Linked DNA regions of Homo sapiens. The protein of the gene in region 2 purifies or fractionates together with the protein of the main gene of each other region. This does not show direct contact. Each region holds a gene or a part of one and is shown on either strand. Other genes may lie near its edges.

Region 1 (3,500 bases), on a different chromosome or scaffold from region 2:
AAATCCTACAACTTTTTAGAGCCATCAAGAGCCATCAAGGTGTCAGTGAACACCAGTTACAAAAGGAGATTCAGTGTTTCAGATAGTGCAATATTTCCAGCTGCTGAAAAGAATTTAAATGAAATTACAAACTACCCCTCCTTGTCAAAAATCCACATGAAGTTGATATTGGTGCTTATAAATCACTCTCTCCCAGTCCCTCACTGGTTCCAACCTTCAGGTGATAAAAATTAGGATGGGATCCATCTTCCCTGTGCTGACAGTCTGGGGTCCCCGCATGTATGCACGAACCCGCCCAGCGTGCGCACACACGTTCAGAAGAAATCTTCAAAGGAACCGAGCGTTTGGAGAAAGTGGCAAGTCCACAGAATCAGAGGTTACGAACACACCTTCAATAATATTAATACATTCCTGTCTTTAAATTCCTTGCCATGTTTCCATCAAAGTAGAGCACACACTCTTTTCCAGAAGCCTGGGGGCTCGACCTGGGTGGGACACCAGGATGCAGCTGAAACTCTGAAGGACTGTGGAGACGGGTGGCCCCTGCTTTGCTGCCACTGTGACAGCTCTTGTTGGAAAATGTTTTGCGTCTTTGAGGAGAGCAGAGGAGGGACTGGGCCTTCCTGGCTTCGAATCCGGCATCAACCTTGGTGGTGCAGGTGCAGGAGCATGAGGTGGGAGAGGGTGGGTGGCTGTCAACACAGACCACAAACAGGGCCTCTGCCTCAGTTCCCTGGAGCTAAAGTTCTTACAACAAAGGTAAAGAATGAGGGCAGAGGAACACAATGGGTTGGAAGAGAAATGAAGTTTAAAAAAAAAACAAAAAACCCAGAGGGTGTGAGCCTCTGTCAGTGCAACGGGCTTCCGGGTTCCCTGTGCTGAGGAAGGATGGGCAGCAAGACCCAAGTTTCCTGGGATTTTGCAGACTCAGGAGTGAAGCCACCGCCCAGATGGGATGTGTACCTTAGGTTAGTGTTTGTTCCTCATTAGATAACCAGTGAGACAAATAAGCAGGGTCAAAGGCAGCCGTCCTCCGCGGGACAAGCAGGCTTTGGGGAACAGGCAGCACATTCTGGAAACGGGGCTGCTGCTAAGGGCCGTTGTTTTTCTTCCCCCAAACCAGGATGCCAATGTGAATGCATAGGACGGGAATAGGTCCGGGAAGACTCTCTGGCAGCTCAGCCCGCTGAGGACGCAGAAAATGGGAGGGCCGCGGCGTGGAGCGCGTGGCTTCAAGGCAGGAGCAGCGCCTTGGACTCACGGTGTCCATAGCGTCCCTAGCAGGCGCCTGCGCTTCCCTGGGCAGCAGATGGGCCTGGCTGTCTGGGAAGAGGCGCTGTGGACGGCATGGAGGCAGAAACTTTGTGGGGTGCATAGAGGCTTGGCGAGGCCTTACCTGAGTAAGAGATTTCAGAAACGGAAGGAGAGGATCTCACGCACAGTAGGCTTTGTACACTCAACCCATGCTGCAAAAACCACTCTAGACTCTTGGAACTCCTGGGACTTGTTCATACACAGCTCACTCAGACGGCTAAGGAAAGACAGACTCCCAAAAGATCAAACTAGCTAAAAGAAGCCCCTCTGCCATCACCAGGAAGAATGGACCCGTGTTGGTGGAATCTGGAGGTTTATTTTCTGCAGCCCTGTGCCTTGGGCATCACCTGGAGATGCTGTGTAGTGCTGTCGTGGGCGTCTAAATTTCTTGAGGCCACAAGGAGTCTCATGGCTATAGAGAGGGTCTAGGGGCCAATGTCACCTGGCATGTTGGTCACATTCCCAGGACCACACTGCCTCTGGGAGCTGAAGGTCCCTGGCAGCCCAGGAGCCCTGGAGGCAGGGCTGGGACAGGAGCTAGGAGAGTTCAAAGCCCGTGTTCATGCTGATGGCGTAGCGCAGCTTCTCGCGGAGGACGCTCTTCTTGCTGTAGTTGGGCAGCTTGAGCAGGTTGAAGCAGGTGGAGGAGGTGGGCAGGCGGCCGCCTGGCTCCCGCTTGCGGATGGTGAAGAAGCCCCGGAGGACGCTGCCCAGAGTGTCCCCGGTGTCCTGAAGGCACACATCGTGGCCTTGAATTGGGAAGGGCCTAGTTTGGGAGCCCAGGCTGATGCCAAGGCCAGGGAGCCCAGGGAGGGGATCTGGCCAGTCCCTGGATGCTGGGCAGAGTGCAGGGCGCTGCCCTGGCACCACTACCCGAGGTCAAGCCCCAGACACAAGACGACTGGCTTCCAGAGAAGGAACCCCTTCTCCCTGGGGCCTGCACAGAGAATTCCTGCACTAAGTAAGCTTTTGGAAATGGGGCCTTCCGGTTCACAGCGAATTACTGGTTAACCAATTGACAAAAAGTAGAATGCTGTAAAAACTGTTAGGTGCCCAAACATTTCTGAATGCACTCCTCCCTCCTCACCGGTGCTGTGGCCGGTGGCAGACCATGACTTGGGCCAACTTTCCCTTAAGCATGGAGGCCGAGGACTGTGTAGCTTCCTGTACAAGGTGGCATCACGGGCTCAAACTGCATCATGAGAGGCAGCTACACCCAGAGGCGGCCACTGGGTTTTTATGGGGAGTAGGACTCTCATTTGAGCACCCACAGTGGGCCAGGCTTGAGACACACAGAGCTCCGTAACCCTGAAGGCTTTCCTTCTCCTTTGGCCAATGAGGAAATGAAGCAGCGAGCCTGGACGTGCACAGCCTGCTGGGGTAGGAGTAGCATTCGAGTCTGCGCCTGCCTGCCTCCTGAGCCCACTCTCTCACTTTCTCCCATGCTGCCTCAGATCTGGAGCCCTGGTGAGGCCAGACGCCACTAAAAACAGCACGTACCCACCCCCACTCCAGGTACCCTTCCCTGAGGAAGGAAAGAGAAAGGGGCTGCCGAGAGAGGGCTGAGTCCGTGGGCAGTCTCTCTGGGGCTGGCTGGTTCTCCTGCCGTGAGAACTGTGGGGCCCTCCTCACTTGGCTCTGAGGGGTCCAGCTGCCTGCCTTGCTGAGATATGGACTAGATAAGGGCCTTGCACAGTGGGCACAGCAGACAACCACCAAGAGGGAAGTCAAGGCTCTTCCCCACCCACCCCGTGGGGGTACCTGATCGTCCGACACCTCCACGCAGCGGATGGAGAATGGAGGCTTGAGGTAGGCGAATCCCAGGAGCGGGGGTCTGGAGCAGCTGGTCACGAACTGCAACACAAAGCAGGGTCAGTGGGGACGGGGCAGGCTCCTGCTCTTCCAGGACGGGCCCTTGCAGCTGTGTAGCACGTGTTTGCTCTGTCTGTTACCGTGTTGTAACTGCTGTCTAGCCAGCCGTATGGAGTGGCGGGGTGGATCTGGCCCCAAAACTGGCACACGCCGTACATCTCTCTCAAGGGTGCTGCTCTCGGGGACTAAGACACATGAAACCCATACCCAATAGGTGCGACTGGCCACTTGTGAGAGCACGTGTGACTGCAGAGTAGGAACAGCACAAATGCCCAGCCAGGGCACTGGTGAGGCGTCCCCGAGAGGCAGGTCTC
Region 2 (4,117 bases):
AGGAGGTGAAATATCTTTAATCCCCTCCTACCCCTCTCCCTCCCTATCTTTCTGAGCCTCCCCCATCCAGACTGGGTGCAGGGGTGCAGAGCTTTCCTCTCCAGCAGGGCTCTAAGCCTAAGCCGGGGGCAATGGGGAGGAGGGGTGTCTGAGGAGCACTCCCTCTCCCTGGGAGCTCTGCAGAGGAAGAGGGTCTCTGGCAATCAGCATCCTCTACCTCCACCTCTCCAGCGGGCGACCCCTCAGAGAAGGTCTCCCAGTGAGTCTGGAATACGTGCCGAGTGCCTGGAGTGCTATTGTGTGTATGTGAGAGCACATTGGTGAGGCTGCCCATGCATGCCACTGTGGACAAAGACAGATGCGATCGTGTGTGTGTGGGGACTGCGTATATGTTTTTGTCAGTGTGTGTGACCACGAGTCAGCTGGGTATGTGTGCTTGTGGGTATCAGGTGCATGGCTGTGCGTACATGTGTGCGTAAGAGTCGGTGCATTTGTGTTTCAGCGCGGCTAAGGCCCTGACTGAGATGCTGTGTGTGCGGGGGTGGGTGTGACTGAATGCGGGCACGGGTGTCCGTCTGTTTATACGTGTGTTTGCGTGTTTGGGTGTGCAGGTGGCTCTGCGTAAGCGTCTGTGTGCAGGGGGTCGGCACATGGGGGAGGATGCCCATGGTTGGGTAACCGCAGGTCCGCTTGACCCTCTGCCACCTAGGACTGTGTCTATACGGCGTCTGGGCTACAGTGTGTTTGAGTTGCCGTGTGCGTTTCCGTTGCGGGGTGTGGGTTGCCACGGGGCAACTGCATTTTTCTGCGTCTTCATGGCCAGGGGTACAGGGGGCGTCGGGCTTTTCCTGGGGGTTTTTCTGTGTGCGTGTGTAATTATGTGCTTAGTTCACATCTTCATAGTGCGCCTTTGTGTTTTCCTGGGTATCTAACCATTGCACGTGTGCCCGGGACTTCAGCGATAAGTGTTTCGGTGTTCCTGCGTGCGGATTTGTGCTCTCCGGGGAGGTCTGCGGCCCAGGTTCGATTCCTGCGACTTGTCCTAGGCAGGCCTGTATGTGCGCGGCGGCCGCGTGCTGTACAGTGTGAGGGAACGTGTACCAAACGCTCGCGGGATACCTGTGCCCGTCTAGCCAAGAGTGCACCCGTGTGCGCGAGCGGGCTTCTGGGACGCCGCCGTGGTCGGGGGCGGCCCTGCGAGGGGAGGGGGTCACAGGGACTGGCCGGCGCCGGCCCCGTGCGCACGGAGGCGGGGGCGGGGGGCGGGGGCCGCGAGGGGGGAGGCGGTACGAAAAGGGCGGCGCGCGCGGCGGCGGCGGCAGCTCCCCGGCAGCGGCGGTGGAGAGCGCAGCGCGCAGCCCGGTGCAGCCCTGGCTTTCCCCTCGCTGCGCGCCCGCGCCCCCTTTCGCGTCCGCAACCAGAAGCCCAGTGCGGCGCCAGGAGCCGGACCCGCGCCCGCACCGCTCCCGGGACCGCGACCCCGGCCGCCCAGAGATGACCGCGACCGAAGCCCTCCTGCGCGTCCTCTTGCTCCTGCTGGCTTTCGGCCACAGCACCTATGGTGAGTTCCCCGGCGGCCCGGCTCGCGCCCCCTCTGGGGAAGCCTGCGACTCCCCGCCGGCCGCCCGGTGCCCCGCACGCCCCGTCTCGTGAGCCCCAACTCCGCCCGTCCCGCCTAGCCCTAAGCCCCGCGCTGTGCCTGTCTCGCCCTACCCACCACGCTCGCATGCCAAGGCCCGTCCCAGGGGTCCCAGGGCGCAGGGGATGTGTGAGACCCCCAGCCCCTTCCCGCCCTGCAGAAGTGGCGCCAGAGGGGTGTCGGTGCGCTGAGCAAGGAGGTATGGAAAAATGGGGTGCTGTTGTGGAGTCTTCTATGAAAATACTCTGGGGTGCAACTTTGGGGTGTCCCTGTGTGAGCGTTCTGGAACAGGTCTCGGGGCGGGAGTGGGGGACGACTTTGCCGTCTTAGCCCCCAATTCCCAGAGAAGCCCAGCCTGAGCCCTTCCTGCGTGGCGCGTTTCTGTAGGTGAGGGGCTGCGACACTTCTGTCTGCAGCGGCCATCTGTCTCTGACAGCGAGAGAGTTGCCCCCTTCCTGCAGCGCCCCCCCACTCATTGCACCAGTGGTTGTAAGGGGGCTGTCTAGAAAGCTGGGGAGCTGGTTGAGTAAATGCACACAGTAGGTGCCTGTTAAAGTGTCAGAATCTCTAAGCAGTGTTGTTGCAACCTCAGCCCGCTAAGCAAAACCCTGTGTCGTCATCGTTTTTTTAATGCGAAGAGTCTGGGGTAGGGGAAAGAGGGAAGATTTGACCTGGGTGCCCGGCTTAATAGGGATGAACCTTAAAAAGAATGCAGACGCCTTACTGGGGCGCCCACCAGGTGAACCTGTCTGGGCTTTCCCGGAGTTGAACACCTCAAAATCTGCTCCTCTTTTCAGCTCAGGTTGCAAAAGTGACGGTCAGGCTGCATGCCCAGGGCTCAACATATTTCCCTCCACGGTCCCCGTCCCCGCTGTTAGGAGGACTTGAGGTGTCGTATTTGCTTTTGGGAGTCCGAGGAGAAGGTGTTTCTCCTGCTCCTAAGAACGAGGGAGAGTGTACTGTGGTCATTTCATTGCTGGGAACGTGGCAGAGATGTTTTTCCTGAGTGCACTGAGCCCCATCCATGCTCGGATAGGAAGTGCCTACTGTGTGCCAGGCTGGTAGGACCCAAGAGGGCTGTTGGTGCCCTCGAGGGCAGTGGTGGGCTGTGTGGGCGAAGACAGCCTTTGCCTTGGCCTGGGGCCTGGTGGGGTGAATTGTATAACCTTTCTTGTACCTCAGGGGCTGAATGCTTCCCGGCCTGCAACCCCCAAAATGGATTCTGCGAGGATGACAATGTTTGCAGGTAATAGAGTGGCTCCTCAGAGGCAGCTTGTAGGGGCCACGCAGAAGCCTGGGGAGTCGTGAAGTCAGGCAGAAAAAAATAGGGGGCTTGGCCACTACGCTGCAGCAAACAGCTTCCGGGCCCCTGCAGAAAACTGGTGGGGCGAGCTGGGGAGATGGGGGGGGCGGGGGGGGGGCAGCCACAGCTCCTGTCTGCGTTCTCAGAGGTGGGGGGGCAGGTGGGACCACTGCAGGCCACTGCGGCAAAACGCAGCACTCCCCCGGGATCTCGGGGCCCCTCCAAGTCGGCCCCCTCAGCTTGGCATGTTTTCTCTTTAAGTTTTCCCATTCAGGTGGCTGGTGTTTACTTCCCAGGACCACCGGCTGCCACTGTGCAAAGACCCCCAAGGGTCCTTGGTTCCACAGAAAGTAGCCTGAGCTGCCTCTCTACCCCTGCCCTCTTCATATGTCCCCACCTTTCTCCCCCACCCATTGCAGGTGCCAGCCTGGCTGGCAGGGTCCCCTTTGTGACCAGTGCGTGACCTCTCCCGGCTGCCTTCACGGACTCTGTGGAGAACCCGGGCAGTGCATTTGCACCGACGGCTGGGACGGGGAGCTCTGTGATAGAGGTTGGCACTCGCCTTTGTTCACCTCAGCTCTGCGTCCTTACCTGCCTGCCCTAGCCCCTACCACCTCCTCCCAGTCTCCTGTTGCTGGTGTTCCTCACTTCCTCATTCCTGCACACTCCGTGCCCTGTATTCTAAAGATCTGTTTATAAATTTCCTGTGGGTACCGAATGCCTCCTCAGAGGTAGGGACTTTATTTTGCTCTTCTCTGCGCCATCAGCACCCAGCACCTAGAGGGAACATGGCGTGGGGGCCAGGGAGCTGCCTGTTGAATAAAGAGTCACAAAATACACATACAGCTGGGCCGGTGGGACCACAGACCCCAGGCTGCCTGTCCAGGTCATGGAAGCCCAGTGATGGACAGGGCTCTGGGGATCTCAGAGCTAAGACTCCCTAGAAAAGCACACGCAAGACTGTAAAGAGGCTGCAAACAAACAAACGGGGTGGGGGGTGGCCAGCACTGCTCAGTGGTTGAGGGGCAGGTGCTGAGTCAGGGCCAGGAGGACAGGGCTGGGGGGCCTGGACTGAGTGGGTCAGGTGTAGGGGGAGGCTGCAGTTGGGAAAAGCTGAGAAAGGGTTAAAGTGAAGATGGGTGTTATCTGTTGATTTCATTAATTTATGCAATCTT
Region 3 (3,500 bases), on a different chromosome or scaffold from region 2:
CCACGCCTGGCCAGTTCTTTTTTTTTTTTTCTGTGAGGCAGGGTCTTACTTTGTTACCCAGGCTGGAGTGCAGTGGCATAATCATGGCTTACTGCAGCATCAACTTCCTGGTCTCAAGTGATCCTCCCGCCTCAGCTTTTCAAGCAGCTGAGACCACAGGCACGCACCACCACACTCAGCTAATTTTTTTTTTTTTTTTAAGAAACAGAGCCTCATTATGTTGCCTAGGCTGGTCTCAAACTCATGGGCTCAAGTGATTCTCCTGTCTTTGTCTCCCGAAGTATTGGGATTACAGGCATGAGCCACTGCACCTGGCCCAGGAATTTCCAATTTCCTTTTCTGCTCCAGAGTTTAGTTCCTTATTGCCAGTTCATCTTATAGTGATTGAAATTCATATTTAGCAAAGATAGGGTGAAAGTTTTAAAATCTGACCTTTGCGATTTTTACCATCTACTGTTGATCTCCGTTTTGAACTTCCCATCTGAGTTTAAATCAGTCTTCTTGTGTTTTTTACCTTTAATTTTCTCTGTTTTAAAAACACTCTGTTTCATCTTCATTTAAATCTGAAGTCCAATTGCATAGTCTTGATCTTTACCCACAGAAGATTGCTATCTTTTCTCATATATTTTCTATTTTCTATAATCTCATTTGGCCTTTAATAATATGCTCTTTTATATTTCTGGTTAACTGTTCATGTCTGTATTTTTTTTTTCTTTCCAACTGAATTGTAAATTCCTTGAATCAGAGTTTTGTTTTTTTTTTTTTTGAGGTGGAGTCTGCTTCTGTCACCCAGGCTGGAGTGCAGTGGCACGATCTCGGCTCACTGCAACCTCCACCTCCTAGATTCAAGCAATTCTCTGCCTCAGCCTCCTGAGTAGCTGGGATTACAGGCACTCACCATCACGCCCGGATAATTCTTTTGCATTTTTAGTAAAGACGGGGTTTCACCATCTTGGCTAAGCTGATCTTGAACTCCTGACCTCGTGATCCACCCGCCTTGGCCTCCCAAAGTGCTGGGATTACCGGCATGAGCCACTATGCCTGGCCCAGAGTTAGTTTTTACACTTCTCTGTAGTTCCATGTTCAGCAGCTAGTATAATGACAGGAACATTTTAGATGATTGAAGCATTGACTGAATGGGTGTTATTATTTTGATATTTGTCTTTTTGGGATTTAAAAAAAAATTGATAATAAATATTACCAATAGAGCTTAAACCACCATGGAACGATCTTGGAAGGAACCTTTTCAAGTATTATATTGAAGAGATTAAGTAGATTGTTAGTTTTAATAGTTTACGATGTATTTTAATCTTATATTTAAAAAATAACATCTTTCTTTCTCCCCCACCCCACTTTCTTTCTTTTTTTTTTTTGGCAGCCGATTCGAAGACAGTCTCTTACACCTCCTCCTCAGAACACTATTACATGGGAAGAATATATATCTGCTGAAAATGGAAAGTAAGTTTTTTTCTTGTTTATGTGTTATTTGGTTTTTAGAAAGAATAATTTGTAAAAACTGAATATGTGAATATTTTGGCGTAAATTATTTTGGAGAGAATTATTGGTATATTTTTGACTGAAGCAATTCTTCTACCTTTTAAAAATATGGATTAAATATGATAAGGGCAAAGTGTCCCAAATTATGTACCCTCTTTGCAAATGGTTGTAGATCTTTCTGTATCCATCCTGTCAATTTATACACACCTAAAAAACTAAAAGACACTGTTCTAAGGAAATATGATATAGGAAATTGCGCAGGACAGTTGCTTATTTGAGATTTCCCATTGTATGATGAGCTTTTCTATTTTGTGATTATCCTGATTTTTTAGCATAGTGTGCAAGCCCATTCATTATTTATCTTCTTTTTGCCTTTCCAAGCTCCTCACCTGTCATTATCCTTTAGTTTCAACCTATGCTAGACTACTTCTCACTGTCCTTCCATAGGACCTTTGCTGATGTAATATTACTAACAGTAGAGTGCCTACCACATAGCTCATACTCAGTTTATATTTATTGACTAAAAGAATGATGAATGAATAAAGAAAGGGTTTATTTTTAATAAATAGATAAGTAAAAAGTGTATCCTGGCCAACCATTATTTCCTTTTGGTGGAGAATAAAATATAAAATATTGCTTTCCTGCTCCTGTTTAGGAAGAAGTTGTCATTTTTTTTTCTTATTGAAAGTTTTGTTATATTTTTCTGAATTCTCCAAGATGTTTCCATCTTAATATTTTTATAGTTTTTTTTTTTTTTTTTTTTTGAGATGGAGTCTTGCTCTGTCGCCCAGGCTGGAGTGCAGTGGGCGTGATCTCAGCTCACTGCAACCTCCGCCTCCCAGGTTCAAGCCATTTTCTCACCTCAGCCTCTCGAGTGGCTGGGAATACAGGTGCGCTCCACCATGCCCAGCTAATTTTTGTATTTTTAGTAGAGACAGGGTTTCACCATATTGGCCAGGCTGGTCTCAAACTCATGGGCTCAAATGATCCACCTGCCTCGGCCTCCCAAATGCTGGGATTACAGCTATGAGCCACTGCGCCTGACCTTAATATTTTATGGTGCTAAACAAAATTTATGAGGGTATTATTGTATTAGATTAGCCTCCTGCATGCACTAGGCACCAGCAGACCATACCAAACCAGAATGTAGTTACTTCTGCTAAGTACTACATAATTAAACTGAACTTTGAAATGGGCCAGTTTAAAATGAAAAAAAAAAAAGGACATTCCAGGCAACCTGAGTCAACATAGTAACTAAGTCTTCTGTTTTTTTAACTGTATAAGGAAAGCAACTTTGAAATAACCAGATCACCTTTTTTCCCCACCGTTTCCACTTCAGCCTTTTCAGTCTATAAAGATAACCTCCTCTTTTCAGCTTATTGGAACGCTCATTCTATTTTACAGAATTAGGTATTGTCCTGTGCTAGAGTTGCAAATAAAAGCCAATTAGATCTTTATGCTACATTGATAATTTTCTTTTGATAATAGTTAATATAGAATTCCTTATTCTTCACAATATTTCTTATTGATCAATGCAGAGGCTGTAATAGACAGTAAAGAAGATTGAATTGAATAAGTGACTTTAAAGATATACAATAATACCTTAAAAATTTTTTTACTAATGATTTTCTTTATTCCTAAAAATAGTGGTTATTAAAATTATATTCAATGTGAAATTAGTTTAGATCTAATAATTTCTGAACTTTTACTCTTTGCTATTCTTTTTTATTGCCCTTGTCTTAATTTCTTATACATATCTTATTCCCTTTTAGCATAACTTTATTTCTGTAGACAGAGTAAGAAAAATTGAAATATTAATGAATGTCATTGAAAGATGACAGATGCTTCTTAGGAAGGTGATAGACTATGGAAAAAGTTTCCTAACATTTTTTTTCCTCCCATTTTAGAGCTCCTCATCTGGGTAGAGAATTGGTGTGCAAAGAGAGTAAGAAAACGTTTAAAGCTACGATAGCCATGAGCCAGGAATTTCCCTTAGGGATAGA
Region 4 (4,074 bases), on a different chromosome or scaffold from region 2:
AATGCCATGGGGTTTCTCTTCCATTTCACTGTCAAGGCCTGGCTCTCCCAGTCTCATCTGATGTCAAGTCACCACAAACAAGGGGCATGGTGGTCTGGTGGTTCAAGGGCAGTTAACTCTCAATTATTTGGGGGCTGATGATGAAGAAGATGGTTTGTACTTCACCTCCCTGGTCATTGCACTACTCCACAGTATCCACCAGTTTCCCTGTTTGCAGTTTTGACAAAGAGAACCAGTGAGCAAGGAAGTTAGAGCTAACATAGCAGCTAAGACTTGCAATGTTTGAGGATTTTATCTGAACATGCTGTCTCCTGTTCTAGGGTTAACCACCATAGTCTACATTTTATTTGTTTTTGTTTTTTTTGTTTTTTTTTTTTTGAGACGGAGTCTCGCTGTGTCGCCCAGGCTGGAGTGCAGTGGCGCGATCTCGGCTCACTGCAAGCTCTGCCTCCCGGGTTCACGCCATTCTCCTGCCTCAGCCTCCCAAGTAGCTGGGACTACAGGCACCCGCCACAATACCCAGCTAATTTTTTGCATTTTTAGTAGAGATGGGGTTTCACCGTGTTAGCCAGGATGGTCTTGATCTCCTGACCTCGTGATCCGCCTGCCTCTGCCTCCCAAAGTGCTGGGATTACAGGCGTGAGCCACTGCGCCCGGCCAATAGTCTACATTTTAATGTGCTCTGATCTTTACAGTGATTTTCAAACTTTTTGATTCCATGACTCTTTTTTTTTTTTTTGGAGACAGAGTCTTGCTCTGTTGCCCAGGCTAGAGTGAGTGCAGTGGCATGATCACAGCTCACTGCAGCGTCGACCTTCTGGGCTCAAGCGATCCTCTGGCATCCACCTCCCAAGTAGCTGGGAACACAGGCACATGCCACCATGCCCAGCTAATTTTTTTGGTTTTCTTGTCAGTGTGTTGCCCAGGTTGATCTCAAACTCCTGGGCTCAAGCAGTCCTCCCACAGCAGCCTCCCAAAGTGCTGGGATTACAGGCATTACTTTGACTCTTTTGAACCTTACTAGTGCCATTGCTTTAAATTTTTTTATTTATTTGTATTCTTTTAGTTATGCCTCAGGATCTAACTTTTTTTTTAAACTACCTCTTCAGAATACCAAGATCAGCTCTTCTTTTGCCAAAAGTACTATAAAGAGATACCACAGTGCCATTTCTTCTCTCTTCAATGGCTCTCAATCTTTTTCTGCCTCCACGCTGTTCCTGTATGCAACGCGTTCCTGTTAATAACATCTCTAATGACACTGTAATGGTTCCCAAAAACCAAGGAAGAGGCATACCTTCCTCTTACTCTGCCTCTCGCTGCCCTGAGAATCACTAAAATAATTTACGCCCCCAATACAGACAGAGACTACAATGAATATTAATACAAGAAGTCTGCCAGAGAACTACCTGCTGGCTTCTTAAAATTACTGAATGCAAACCAGGTATGAAGACCCTAGTCATTGCCAGGAAGCATAGGAGGATCCTACTTTTAATGCCCATCGCTTTTAATGCCCAGAGCCACCCTGCAAGAGCTCAGGGGAGTCAGGGAACTTGATCTCCTCAGGTCACACCTAGGAAACAACTAGGTCTAGCGGATAAAGAACTCAAGCCCCTGGACTTTCGGATTCTAGTTTGGCTCTAGGTGACCCTGGCCTTGCCTCTCCGAACAATCTCCACATCTGCAAAATGAAAATGTTAAAACTGCCCCCTCCCTGCTTCCATCTTCCAAGATTACCTGCGGAATAACAACTATGTCACTAAAGCTGAGCGTCTTGGATAAATCATGAGAAAAAGATCCTTCTCTCCAATGCATACACCCACATAGCAGAAGGAAAACAGATTCCATAACGAGCTCCCTCCTTTTTTCCCTCAAGAGCCACCGAAAAACTCAGGAGAGAGGGTGGGATGTAGCAGCACGTGACCAAGGCAACGCCAAAGTTTAGCCCGCGGTGACACACCAATGAAAGAGCGGGGCTTTGCTTGCATCTGGCGCTGGGCAGCGGGCAGGGGCCGCATCGTGGCATGCTAGGAACCAGGAGACCTGGGCTCCAGGGGTGTGCGGTACAGGAACGAGGGCATTCCACAGGAGTCACTTTATCCGATGGCATGGATGGTGAGCTTCCGAGGAGCCTGAAAACGCTTCTGGAAAGGCGGAAAGAAAAAAAAGCCCGCTCCAAACTGCAAGATCAGGGATGGCTGCCAGGAGCCCCTCGGCCGGCTCCATCCAGCTGGGGACGGCCGCGCGAGGACCCCGGGCGGCTGCGGAGAGCGCGCGCAGGCGGGACAACGGTCTTTATTTAGGTCGGGGATGAGGACTCCCAGGGGCCTCGAAATAAATACTCAGGGCGTCGGCGTTGGGAGCCCTCTGGGCCAGGGCCTAGGCACGACAGACCTGGGGCAGGGATTCTTTGTTGGCGAGAGGCTTTATTTCTGGCGAGAGACCCCACAATGGACCAATCCAGGGCTGAGAGCAAGAGTCTGAAGACTCGGGGGAAGGCAATGGTCAAGAGCTGGAGACTAGAGCCAGTCCCTGGACTCCCCCTCAGGAGGCATCCCCTTAAGCCGTTCTCTGGGTGCAGACCCCAGACTCCCCTTTCCTTGGCCAAGAATCCAAAGGACGCGCAAGGCCGAGCCCCACGCCCCCTTGCTCCCCACTTTCGGGCCACGGGCCTTCTCGTACTTACCGGGGCCCCGGGGCTGGTCTTCCTCGCCCGCGTCCTCTCCCCTCCCAACCCCCTCCTCACTTCACGTCCCCTCCTCCGGGGGCCGCAGCCATGTCCGTTACTGGCAACTCTAAGGGGGCTTGCCTCCCTTCCGGGCAACAGAGGCGCCGGCCAGAGAGCTAAAGTTCAGGCCACCGATTGGTCAGGATTTGAGAATAGGGGGAATTCTGGCTTCTTATTGGCTACGCGGCGTGCTAGGCTGTAGCTGCAACCGCCCCTCTGGGAGCCTGGCGGAATTAGGTGCCGAGTGATGCGGCCGGGAGAGTGAAGAGCCACTGTCCTTTCCTGTGCGTAAAGCTCAGGCAGTTTCTAGTCCAGAAACCCTGACCAGAGGGCATGGCTTTACCTCCGATTCGTTTTCCTACAGAATTATTCTAAAAAGATAGACGGCGCGCCCCACCTTTTTTCCCTTTCTTTTTAAAATAAGCCCTTTGCAGAGCTCCCCGCCTCTCTTAAGTTCTTCTAAGCTCCCTCCTTGTTGCCTTGAACAAATGCCTAGAGGCTGCCCGCTCCGAGAGGCCTTGGAGGGACTCCCTCAGGACGAATATTGCGTCCAAACCAAATCTAGAAAATCTAAGGCAATACTGCAATTCCCCCCTCCCGCTTCCAGCTCGGCTGAAATCTAAAGGGAAAAACAAGTTAAATTTTTTTTCTAGGTAATTAGATAAATCGCCTGGGAGACCTCTCTTGGGAAAACAAAGCAAGCCTGTGTCAGTATTTACTTCTCTTTTCCCAGAGATCTAAGTCTGGAAGGCTTGTTTAAAAAAAACAAAAACAAAAAAACAAACAAAAACTTGTTTATATAATTGGGAAAGAGCTGAGGTTGGCCTTGTGAAGTAAGAGCCCCTTCCCACATTCATGAGTTTAATTACGTAATTAAAATCCCTTTCTCAGCTGGACAAGAAGATGGCATTTTAGTACCTAATCTTGTATGACCCAGTTTAGCTGTTGCCTAAAACGCCATAAGAATCATGTCACTAACCTGCACACAAAAACTGATAGTTCACCTTTGCAAATAGGTCCAAATCTTTCTGCCTGATGTTCAAAGTCCTTCATAAATTGACTCAGACATACGTTTCCAGGTCTAAGTCCCCACAGGCTAAACTATTCCTGCAGCCACATAGATTAACCACCATTCTTTAAACGTGACAGAGACCTTTCCACCTCTGCTCCTTCGTCACATGGTTGGTTCCCTACGCTTTGCTTTAAAGGTTCTTTTTTTCTTTTTTTTTTTGAGACGGAGTTTCGCTCTTGTCGCCTAGGCTGGAGGGCAATGGCTTGATCTCGGCTCACTGCAACCTTCACCTCCCGGGTTCAAGTGATTCTCTTGCCACGGCCTCCGGAGTAGCTGG

Evidence for each region. The genes of interacting proteins can lie anywhere in the genome.
Region 1: the proteins of DLK1 (region 2) and UBE3B purify together in Homo sapiens (affinity purification with mass spectrometry; 4 studies listed by BioGRID and IntAct, with this or other methods). This does not show direct contact.
Region 3: the proteins of DLK1 (region 2) and ANKRD13C purify together in Homo sapiens (affinity purification with mass spectrometry; 4 studies listed by BioGRID and IntAct, with this or other methods). This does not show direct contact.
Region 4: the proteins of DLK1 (region 2) and TMEM94 purify together in Homo sapiens (affinity purification with mass spectrometry; 4 studies listed by BioGRID and IntAct, with this or other methods). This does not show direct contact.

Annotation. Positions count from the first base shown.
Region 1 is NC_000012.12:109,533,134-109,536,633, reverse strand, and holds part of UBE3B (ubiquitin-protein ligase E3B), read right to left. Parts: intron 3,169-3,500; coding exon 3,076-3,168; intron 2,978-3,075; coding exon of another isoform or gene 2,798-2,977; exon of another isoform or gene 2,690-2,797; coding exon of another isoform or gene 2,570-2,689; exon of another isoform or gene 2,044-2,569; coding exon 1,852-2,043; 3' UTR 1-1,851. UniProt on the Homo sapiens protein: E3 ubiquitin-protein ligase which accepts ubiquitin from an E2 ubiquitin-conjugating enzyme in the form of a thioester and then directly transfers the ubiquitin to targeted substrates.
Region 2 is NC_000014.9:100,725,575-100,729,691, forward strand, and holds the start of DLK1 (protein delta homolog 1 isoform 1 preproprotein), read left to right. Parts: upstream 1-1,317; 5' UTR 1,318-1,494; coding exon 1,495-1,561; intron 1,562-2,821; coding exon 2,822-2,885; intron 2,886-3,361; coding exon 3,362-3,492; intron 3,493-4,117. UniProt on the Homo sapiens protein: May have a role in neuroendocrine differentiation.
Region 3 is NC_000001.11:70,274,723-70,278,222, reverse strand, and holds part of ANKRD13C (ankyrin repeat domain-containing protein 13C), read left to right. Parts: intron 1-1,378; coding exon 1,379-1,458; intron 1,459-3,404; coding exon 3,405-3,500. UniProt on the Homo sapiens protein: Acts as a molecular chaperone for G protein-coupled receptors, regulating their biogenesis and exit from the ER.
Region 4 is NC_000017.11:75,455,361-75,459,434, reverse strand, and holds the start of TMEM94 (transmembrane protein 94), read right to left. Parts: upstream 2,801-4,074; 5' UTR 2,684-2,800; intron 2,142-2,683; exon of another isoform or gene 1,958-2,141; intron 1-1,957. UniProt on the Homo sapiens protein: Could function in the uptake of Mg(2+) from the cytosol into the endoplasmic reticulum and regulate intracellular Mg(2+) homeostasis.